Linked DNA regions of Homo sapiens: region 2 is linked to region 1. The links come from fine-mapping of genetic effects on gene expression. Tissue or cell type: breast. Region 1 holds a variant in brackets; the other region holds the start of a gene. All regions are shown on one strand. Distances are between the middles of the regions.

Region 1 (4,261 bases):
GTGTGTGTGTTTTTGTGTTGTATAAGGAAAGTATTGGTGGGTGGTATTACTTCTTTGCTTCTAACCGGATTGAGAATAAGGGAATGCGTATTGGGAAAGTACGCCGCCGAGTCCTGAAACTGGGGACAAGGGTGCTTGTTGGCATCCTGATATGCCAAGGAGGTGCATTGCTAATTTCTGGACTCCAGACAGTTAAAACGTGAAGAAAGCAGGGTGGTCATCCATAAGCCAACGCCAGAAGCGACGTTGTTTAGTCTTCCCCAATGTTGCAGTTACTTTTGCTCTCATTTTTCATATTATTGCTTCCCAACTGCTCACATTTTTTCTTTTTTGTTTTTTTTGATACCGAGTCTCACTCTGTTGCCTAGGCTGGAGTGAAGTGGCCTCATGTCGGCTCACTGCAACCTCTGCCTCTCGGATTCAAGCGATCCTCCCGCCCCAGCCTCCCGAGTAGCTGGGACTACAGGCGTTCGCTACCATGGCTGGCTAATTTTTGTATTTTTAGGAGAGAGGGAGTTTCACCATGTCGGCCAGGTTTGTCTCCTGAACTCAAGTGATCCGCCCGCCTTGGCCTCCCAAAATGCTAGGGTTACAGGCCTGAGCCACCGCGCCCGACCTTTATTTGACTTCTTAGTCAGGGAGCTGAAGCCTGGTCCCTGCGAGTAAGAAAGCCTGGTCCCTGCGAATAAGAAAGGTTTGGGTAGGAGGCCTCATCGGAGGCATCTTGCAGTTAGCCAAGAGTGGGGAGAACTTTTTTCTTGTGGTTTCCGTAGGAGCTTAACTGCAGTAGAATAAAACATCAGTTACATTTCTAAGGTCTTGACTCCAAACCTTGGCTCCTAGACAGCATTCCAGCACCCACCCAGGGCTTGAGGGAGCTCACTGCCCTAAAGGGAGGGACATAATCCTGGCTGGCTTGGCCACCTGATCCTAGAGCTCTACTGCTTTGAGGGGGCATAGGTGGTAGCAGGTAGTGGATCTAGCAGGCCTTTGAGTGAGACCTGGTGCTGTGCTGGGTTTGGGTCTGAACCAGCACAGGGTTGCTTAGGCATCTCAGCACAGAGAGAGACTCCATTTATTTAGGAGAAAGTAAGGGAAAAGAACAAGAGTCTCTGCCTGGTAATCCAGAGGATTCTTTCAGATCTCATCCAAGACCACTGTTGCGGGAAGCTGGGGACCCTGAATGGAGGGACCGGCTGAAGCCATGGCAGAAGAATATAAATTGTGAAGATTTCATGGACATTTATTAGTTCCCCAAATTAATACTTTTATAATTTCTTACGCCTGTCTTTACTGCAATCTCTGAACATAAATTGTGAAGATTTCATGGACGCTTATCACTTCCCCAGTCAATACCCTTGTGATTTCCTATGCCTGTCTTTACTTTAATCTCTTAATCCCGTCATCTTCGTAAGCTGAGGAGGATGTATGTCACCTCAGGACCCTGTGATGATTGTGTAAATTGCACAAATTGTAGAGCATGTGTATTTGAACAACATGAATTCTGGGCGCCTTGAAAAAAGAACAGGATAACAGCAATGTTCAGGGAACAAGAGAGATAACCTTAAACTCTGACCACCGGTGAGCTGGGCAGAACAGAGCCATATTTCTCTTCTTTCAAAAGCAAATGGGAAAATATTGCTGAATTCTTTTTCTCAGCAAGGAACATCCCTGAGAAAGAGAATGCGTCCCTGAGGGTAGGCCTCTAAAATGGCTGCTTCGGGGGGCGGCCATCTTTTATGGTCGAAGCTGTAGGGATGAAATAAGCCCCAGTCTCCCATAGCGCTCCCAGGCTTATTAGGACGAGGAAATTCCCGCCGAATAAATTTTGGTCAGACCAGTTGTCTGCTCTCAAACCCTGTCTCCTGATAAGATGTTATCAATGACAATGTGTGCCTGAAACTTCCTTAGCAATTTTAATTTTGCCCCAGTCCTGTGGTCCTGTGATCTTGCCCTGCCTCCATTTGCCTTGTGATATTCTATTACCTTGTGAAGCACATGATCTCTGTGACCCACACCCTGTTCGTACACTCCCTCCCCTTTTGAAAATCACTAATAAAAACTTGCTGGTTTTATGGCTCAGGGGGCATCACGGAACCTGCCAACATGTGATGTCTCCCCCAGACACCCAGCTTTAAAATTTATCTCTTTTGTACTCTGTCCCTTTATTTCTCAGACTGGCCGACACTTCAGGAAAATAGAAAAGAACTACGTAAAATATCAGGGGTGAATTTTGCCTGATA[G/T]CTGGCTGAATTTCCCCCAATAACCACCAGGGTAGTACCTCTACAAGTCTGTAAGAATCACAGCATGATTGGACTTGGGGCACACATATCCTGGAATACCCAGAAAGCCTTCCCAAGAAAGACACACAGAAACAAGCCCAGACTGTGAAAAATACAGTAAATACCTAATTCTTCCATACGCAGACAAAACAAACATCCACAAACATCAAGATCATCCAAGAAAACATGGTCTCACCAAACCACATTTGTTCAATTCCAGAGGAACTGAGACGTGACATTTCAGACAGAGAATTCAAAATAGCCATTTTGAGGAAATTTAAAGAAACTAGAGAAAACGGCCAGGCGCGGTGGCTCACACCTGTAATCCCAGCACTTTGGGAGGCCGAGACAGGCAGATCACCTGAGGTTGGGAGTTCGAGACCAGCCTGACCAACATGGAGAAACCCCGTCTCTACAAAAACTACAAAATTAGCCAAGCATGGTGGCCTGTGCCTGTAATCCCAGCTACTCCAGGAGCCTGAGGCAGGAGAATTGTTTGAATCCGGGAGGCACCGGCTATGGGGAGCCAAGATCCCCACTGCACTCCAGCCTGGGCAACAAGAGAGAAACGAAAGAAAGAAAGAGAGAAAGAGAGAGAGAGAGGGAAAGGAAAAGAGAAAAGAAAAGACAAAGAAGTTGGAAATTCACAGTTCTATCAGGTGCATTTACCAGAGATTGAAATTATTCTTGCTGGACGCAGTGGCTCACACCTGTAATCCTGGCACTTTGGGAGGCAGAGGCAGGAGGATTGCTTGGGTCCAGTGGTTCAAGACCAACCTAGGCCACATGGTGAAATTTTGCCTTTACAAAAATAAAAAAATTAGCTGGGCATGGTGGCACACACCTGTAGTCCCGGCTACTCAGTAGGCTGAGATCTGAGAATCACTTAAACCCGGAAGACAGAGGGTGCAGTAAGCCGAGATCGTGCCATTGCACTCCAGACTGGGTGACAGAGTGAGACTTTGTCTTAAAAAAAAAAAAAAGAAAAGAAAAAGAAGAAGAAAAAAAAGGACAGGAAGAAGTCAAATTATCCTCGTTTGAAGGTGATATATTTGGAAAAACCTAAAGACTCCACCAAAATTAGGTGATTAGGACTTTGCAATTTACTTGTGTCAACTTATGACAGGAGGGATCGGCCCAGGCAGACAGTATAATGAGGAACAGTTTCTGGTGGAAATACACCAGGCCGATGTACATGTGAACAAGTGAGCAGTCCCAGTTGTCCCACCTCCCATCTAGAGGACTTAAATCCTATAAATTGGGTTTAGTCTCAGCCCTAAGACTCGCTCTTGCCAGACCCCCCACCATTCTGAACAATGACAGCCAAAGGAGGTCATACCTACAAAGGTCTTTGCTGAAGGGGAGTGAAAATTCTTCCGTGTCTATCGGTGCTTCTCAACCTTGGCTATACTTCAGGACGACCGGATACCTCGGTGGAGTGAATCATCCTGAGGTCCTAGCCCCACCGTACAGCCATTAAATTAGAATATTTGGGACAGGGCCTAAGGCTGTTGTACTTCACAGCTTCCGGGGTATTTCCCTGGGACCAAAAGCACCTCTTAGAATGTCCAGTGAAGACAGTAGTCAACTTGGTCTGGAACAACGAATTTTCCCCGGAAGTAAAAGTGTTCAACTCAACGGGAGGCACTCAGTAACCAGTGTGTAAATGAGGGACTAGCAAATCCCTTGGTTTTGTCACTGATAAGAGGCCACCCAGTCCAGTGGGGAGGCTTTTGCACCCAAATTGGACTATGCGCACAGCAAGTCCGGTAGCTTCTGTGCTGTTCCCACTCTGCAGAACTAGATGGACCCCAGCCCCACCACTGACCCCAAATTTATTTTGGAAATCGAGACTGGTGACATCACACAGGGACCGAGAAGGTGTGAAAAGGTTTATAATTCACAAAATGAGGTGTTCTGGGAGATCAGAGTGGCTCCCAGGCAGGTTGGAAAATGGCTTGAGAGGGAGGAGACTGGGT
Region 2 (4,518 bases), 23 kb before region 1:
GTGTTGTTCAGGCTGGTCTTGAATTGCTGGGCTCAAGTGATCTTCCCACCTTGCCCTCCCAAAGTGTTGGGATTACAGGCATGAGCCACCACCCCTGGTGTCCTCTATACTTTTTTTTTTGGTCTTTTTTTTTACAATTTTTATTTTTATTTTTAAAAATTATTTGTAGAGACGAGGTCTTGCTATATTGCCCAGGCTGGTCTCAAACTCTTGGGCTCAAGCAATCTGCCCACCTTGGCCTCCCAAAGTGCTGGAATTACAGGCATGAACCACCGTGCTTGGCCCTCATATACTTTTTTTTTTTTTTGAGACAGAGTCGCACTCTGTCACCCAGGCTGGAGGGCAGTGGCATGGTCTTGGCTCACTGCAACCTCCACCTCCGAGTTCAAGCGATTCTCCCGCCTCAGCCCCCTGAGTAGCTGGAACTACGAGTGCGTGCCATCACACCCAGCTAATTTTATTTTTAGTAGAGATGGGGTTTCACTACATTGGCCAGGCTGGTCTCTGACTCCTGACGTCGTAATCTGCCCTCCTCGGCCTTCCAAAGTGCTGGGATTACAGGCGTGAGCCACCGCGCCTGGCCTTGGCCCTTATATACTTTTATAGTTCCATTTTTTTCACTTTGAAATCTTTGGCCCACTTGGCATTTATCTTGGTGTATGGTGAGTGAACCGTGATTGTAACACTGCACTCCAGCCTGGACAACAGAGGGAAACCTTGTCTCAAAATATAGATAGATATGGCCAGGCGCGGTGGATCATGCCTGTAATCCCAGCACTTTGGGAGGCCGAGGCACGCGGATCACGAGGTTAGGAGATGGAGACCATCCTGGCTAACACGGTGAAACCCCGTCTCTACTAAAAATACAAAAAATCAGTCCGGTGTGGTGGCACGCACCTGTAGTCCCAGCTACTTGGGAGGCTGACGCAGGAGAGTCGCTTAAACACGGGAGGCGGAGGTTGCAGTGAGCTGAGATAGCGCCACTGCACTCCAGCCCGGGCGACAGTGCGAGACTCCGTCTCAGAAAAAAGAACAGATAGATAGATAGATAGATAGATAGATAGACAGACAGACAGACAGGCCAGGCGCAGTGGCTCACGCCTATAATCTCAGCACTTTGGGAGGCCGAGGTGGGTGGCTGCCATATTGCACTTCACAGGGTAATAGAATGGAGATGACAATGACTCGGTGGAGACTGGGGTAAAGTGAAATGAGGGAAACACTTGCTGAGAGGTTAAAAAAAAAAATAAGGGGGCACCAAAAGACTCAGCAATCCAGATAAATGGCTTGATTATCTTATAATCGAGATAAGATATATTGCATTGAACTATTATTTATTTTGATTACTGAAGGGTTCTGGAGGATCACCCCCTGAAATTCGAACCTAGAGGAATGACCTCACCCTAATCCTGGCCGTGGCTAATAATAACGCCCATCTCTTAGGGCTGTCGAGTGAACTAAAAGAGATAATGCACGTAGAGCCCTCGGACCCGAGGCTGGCATTGGGAAAGGCACAGTTTATATTTTTTGACCTGGTTGTTCACCAGGCAATCCCTGCCATCCGGCTTTCCATCCTGCAGGGGGAGCATGACTGACTGAGTGTCACTATCGGATCTATGATACCTTCTTGCTTTTCTGAAATCAAATAAAAGAGCCATAAACTCTCATCTCAACTGTTGTGTTAGGAAGGAGGACGGGAATGGTAAATGCTGACGCTACAGGCGGCAGTCTGTGCCTCAGAGAGAAAATTTATCCCAACCTTGCTGGGGGCCTTGACGCCCATCTTCCTCCAGAGCACCCCGACAGTCACCCCGCCCTCTGGTGTCCTCCCACCCCGAGCCCGATCTTCCCCCTTCACGCCTGCCCCGGGCCAATAGCCTCCTAACTGCGTCCTCTCTGATTGCGTGTGTCGTGCTCATTACGCCCTATCCGTCGTTTCTTCGCTCCACAAACGTTTACTGAGCGCCTTCAACTTGCCAGGCACTAATTAGACTAGCGCAGAGAAACGGGGATAAGTACTGATGAGGGTCCCAGCCCTCAGCGATCGGATTTCAGAGGGGGAGATAAAGGACTGCCCAGAAGGGTGGTGAGTGGAGTAGTTGATATAAACAACGAGGTGCGATGAAATACACAGGAGGGCTGCTAATCACATATGGGGTGGGTGCCGAGGGCCCTTAATTAAGGGAGGCTTCCTGGACGGGTGACACCCAAGCGGAGTCCTGACGACCCGCGTCAGAAGTAGTCAGGCGAGGAGGAGGGTAAAGGAATCCACGTCCCAAGCAGAGAAGCAGCTTTCCCTACACAGCACAGGACACGGTCCGCGCACAGAAGCCGCAGGAGACGCAGGCACAGGGGCTGGGGAGAATCCTTGCTGGGCCCTCGCCGTCCATGCGCCGCCTCCCTCTGCCCGGTGTCTGGTGTCAGCCTCCTGCCTGGCAGAGGAACTCCAGCCCCTGCTCCCCGAAGCTCCTCCAGGCCTTCTGCTTCCCTGACTCGGAATGGGCCCGCTGTCCAGTGGGTACAAGGCTGGTCTCCCCGCCCACTGGTGACGACGTAAAGATCCAGCTCAGCCTGGTTTCCCCTGGTGATGATATCTTGCGACTCGTCTTTCTCCAGGAAAACAGGGACCGCTCTCCGCCTACAGGTCTCTTCCACAGACCTATCTTGTTTTCACCCCCTGTCTCTTTTGGTTCAGTCTTTTCGCTCATACAAACAAGGAAGTCGCCCCTAGCCCAGCCGCGGCTCCTTAGCTGGAGGCGGGCCCGGGGGTGGAGTCAACCGCGGTGGCCACGCCTCCTGGGAAAGGGCAGGGCATGCAAATTCGAAATGAAAGCCCGGAAACCCCGGAACTAGAACTGGTGTAAGATTTCTCTTGGTTTTTGTGTTGTTGTTGTTGTTTTGTTGTTGTTTTGAGACAGAGTCTCGCTCTGTCGCCCAAGCTGGAGTGCAGTGGCGCGATCTCGGTTCACTGCAACCTCCGCCTCCCGGGTTCAAGTGATTCTACTGCCCAGCCTCCCTAGTAGCTGGGATTACAGGCGCGCGACACCACGCCTGACTAATTTTTGTTTTTTTGTTTTTGTTTTTTTTTTAGATGGAGTCTCACTCTGTCGCCCAGGCTGGAGTGTAGTAGCGCAATCTTGGCTCACTGCAACCTCGGACTCCCAGGTTCAAGAGATTCTCCTGCATCAGCCTCCCAAGTAGCTGGGACTACAGGCACGTGCCACCACGCCCGGCTAATTTTTGTATTTTTAATAGAGACGGGGTTTCTCCGTGTTATCCAGAATGGTCTCGATCTCCTGACCTCGTGATCCACCTGCCTCGGCCTCCTAAAGTGCTGGGATTACAGGCGTGAGTCACCGCGCCCGGCACGCCCGGCTAATTTTTTTGTATTTTTAGTAGAGATGGGGTTTCACCGTGTTCCCCAGGCTGGTCTCGAGCTCCTGAGTCGAGACGGGATTTCTCCGTGTTTGCCAGAATGGTCTTGATCTCCTGACCTTGTGATCCACCCGCCTCGGCCTCCCAAAGTGTTAGGATTACTGGCGTGAGCCACTGCGCCCGGCAGATTTTTCTTTTAAAACGTGGAGAATAAGAAATCAGCCCGAGTGTGTAATGGCGTCAATATTGGTGTGGACAAGACAAAGTGAATGAGGCAAGGAGCGAGGCTGGGGCTCTCACCGCGTCTTGAATGTAGATGAGAGTGGGACGGTGATGGCAGGGAGGAAGGCGACGACATCTCTTCTCGTCCTTTTGGCTAAGATCAAGTGTAGTATCTGTTCTTATCAGTTTAATATCTGATACGTCCTCTATCAGAGAACAATTATATTAGATAGATTTTTGGAGCAGGGAGATGAAATAGGAGCTTGCTCTGTCCACTCCACGCGTCGACCTGGTATTGCAGTACCTCCAGGAATGGGGCTCCCTCTCCTGGGATACAACCTGTTTGCAAGGTTAGAAAGAAAAGACTGCGCCGGGTAGTTTAGGATAGTTGGTAGGTTTTCTTACTCCTTTAAGTATCATAAGGTTCATGATTTATGGAGAGTATCCTAGGACCCAAAACAAGAATATTCATTTCCAAGTAGGGAACATGTTCGACTTTACTTGGAGGGCTTTAAATCTCAGCTTGGCTGTGGAGGGGTGATGACCTTTCAAAGGGATGGATTCCAGTGGTGTGTTGCCCAGGCTGGACTTCAACTTACTCTGTTTGTTTGTTTGTTTTTTGTTTTTGAGATGGAGTTTAGCTCTTGGTACCCAGGCTGGAGTGCAACGGCACCATCTCGGCTCACTGCAACCTCTGCCTCCCGAGTTCAGGCAATGCTCCTGCCTCAGCCTCCCGAGTATCTGGGATTACAGGCACCCGCCACCATGCCCAGCTAATTTTTGTATTTTTAGTAGAAACGGGGTTTCACCATGTTGACCAGGCTGGTCTCGAACTCCTGACCTCAGGTGATCCACCTGCCTGGGCCTCCCAGATTGCTGGGATTACAGGTGTGAGCCACTACGCCCAGCTGAACTTCCTCT

What was found. PIP is the estimated chance that this variant, and not a neighbour inherited with it, causes the effect.
Region 2: LINC00910 starts here. The variant in region 1 is fine-mapped to the expression of LINC00910 in breast (GTEx, PIP 0.91).

Annotation. Positions count from the first base shown.
Region 1 is chr17:43,363,577-43,367,837 of GRCh38, reverse strand. No RefSeq gene overlaps it. Among named protein-coding and RNA genes, the nearest start is that of LINC00910, 23 kb to the left of the region's middle. RefSeq lists a silencer at 1-237. The variant G/T (reference allele first, on the strand shown) is at 2,244.
Region 2 is chr17:43,386,631-43,391,148 of GRCh38, reverse strand. LINC00910 (long intergenic non-protein coding RNA 910) reads left to right here and starts at 2,251. Exons shown (of 6, transcript NR_027412.1): 1 at 2,251-2,860. It also overlaps the pseudogene RNU2-4P. RefSeq lists enhancers at 1,371-2,124, 2,442-2,671, 2,125-2,878, 3,169-3,684, 3,685-4,200 and a silencer at 2,234-2,528.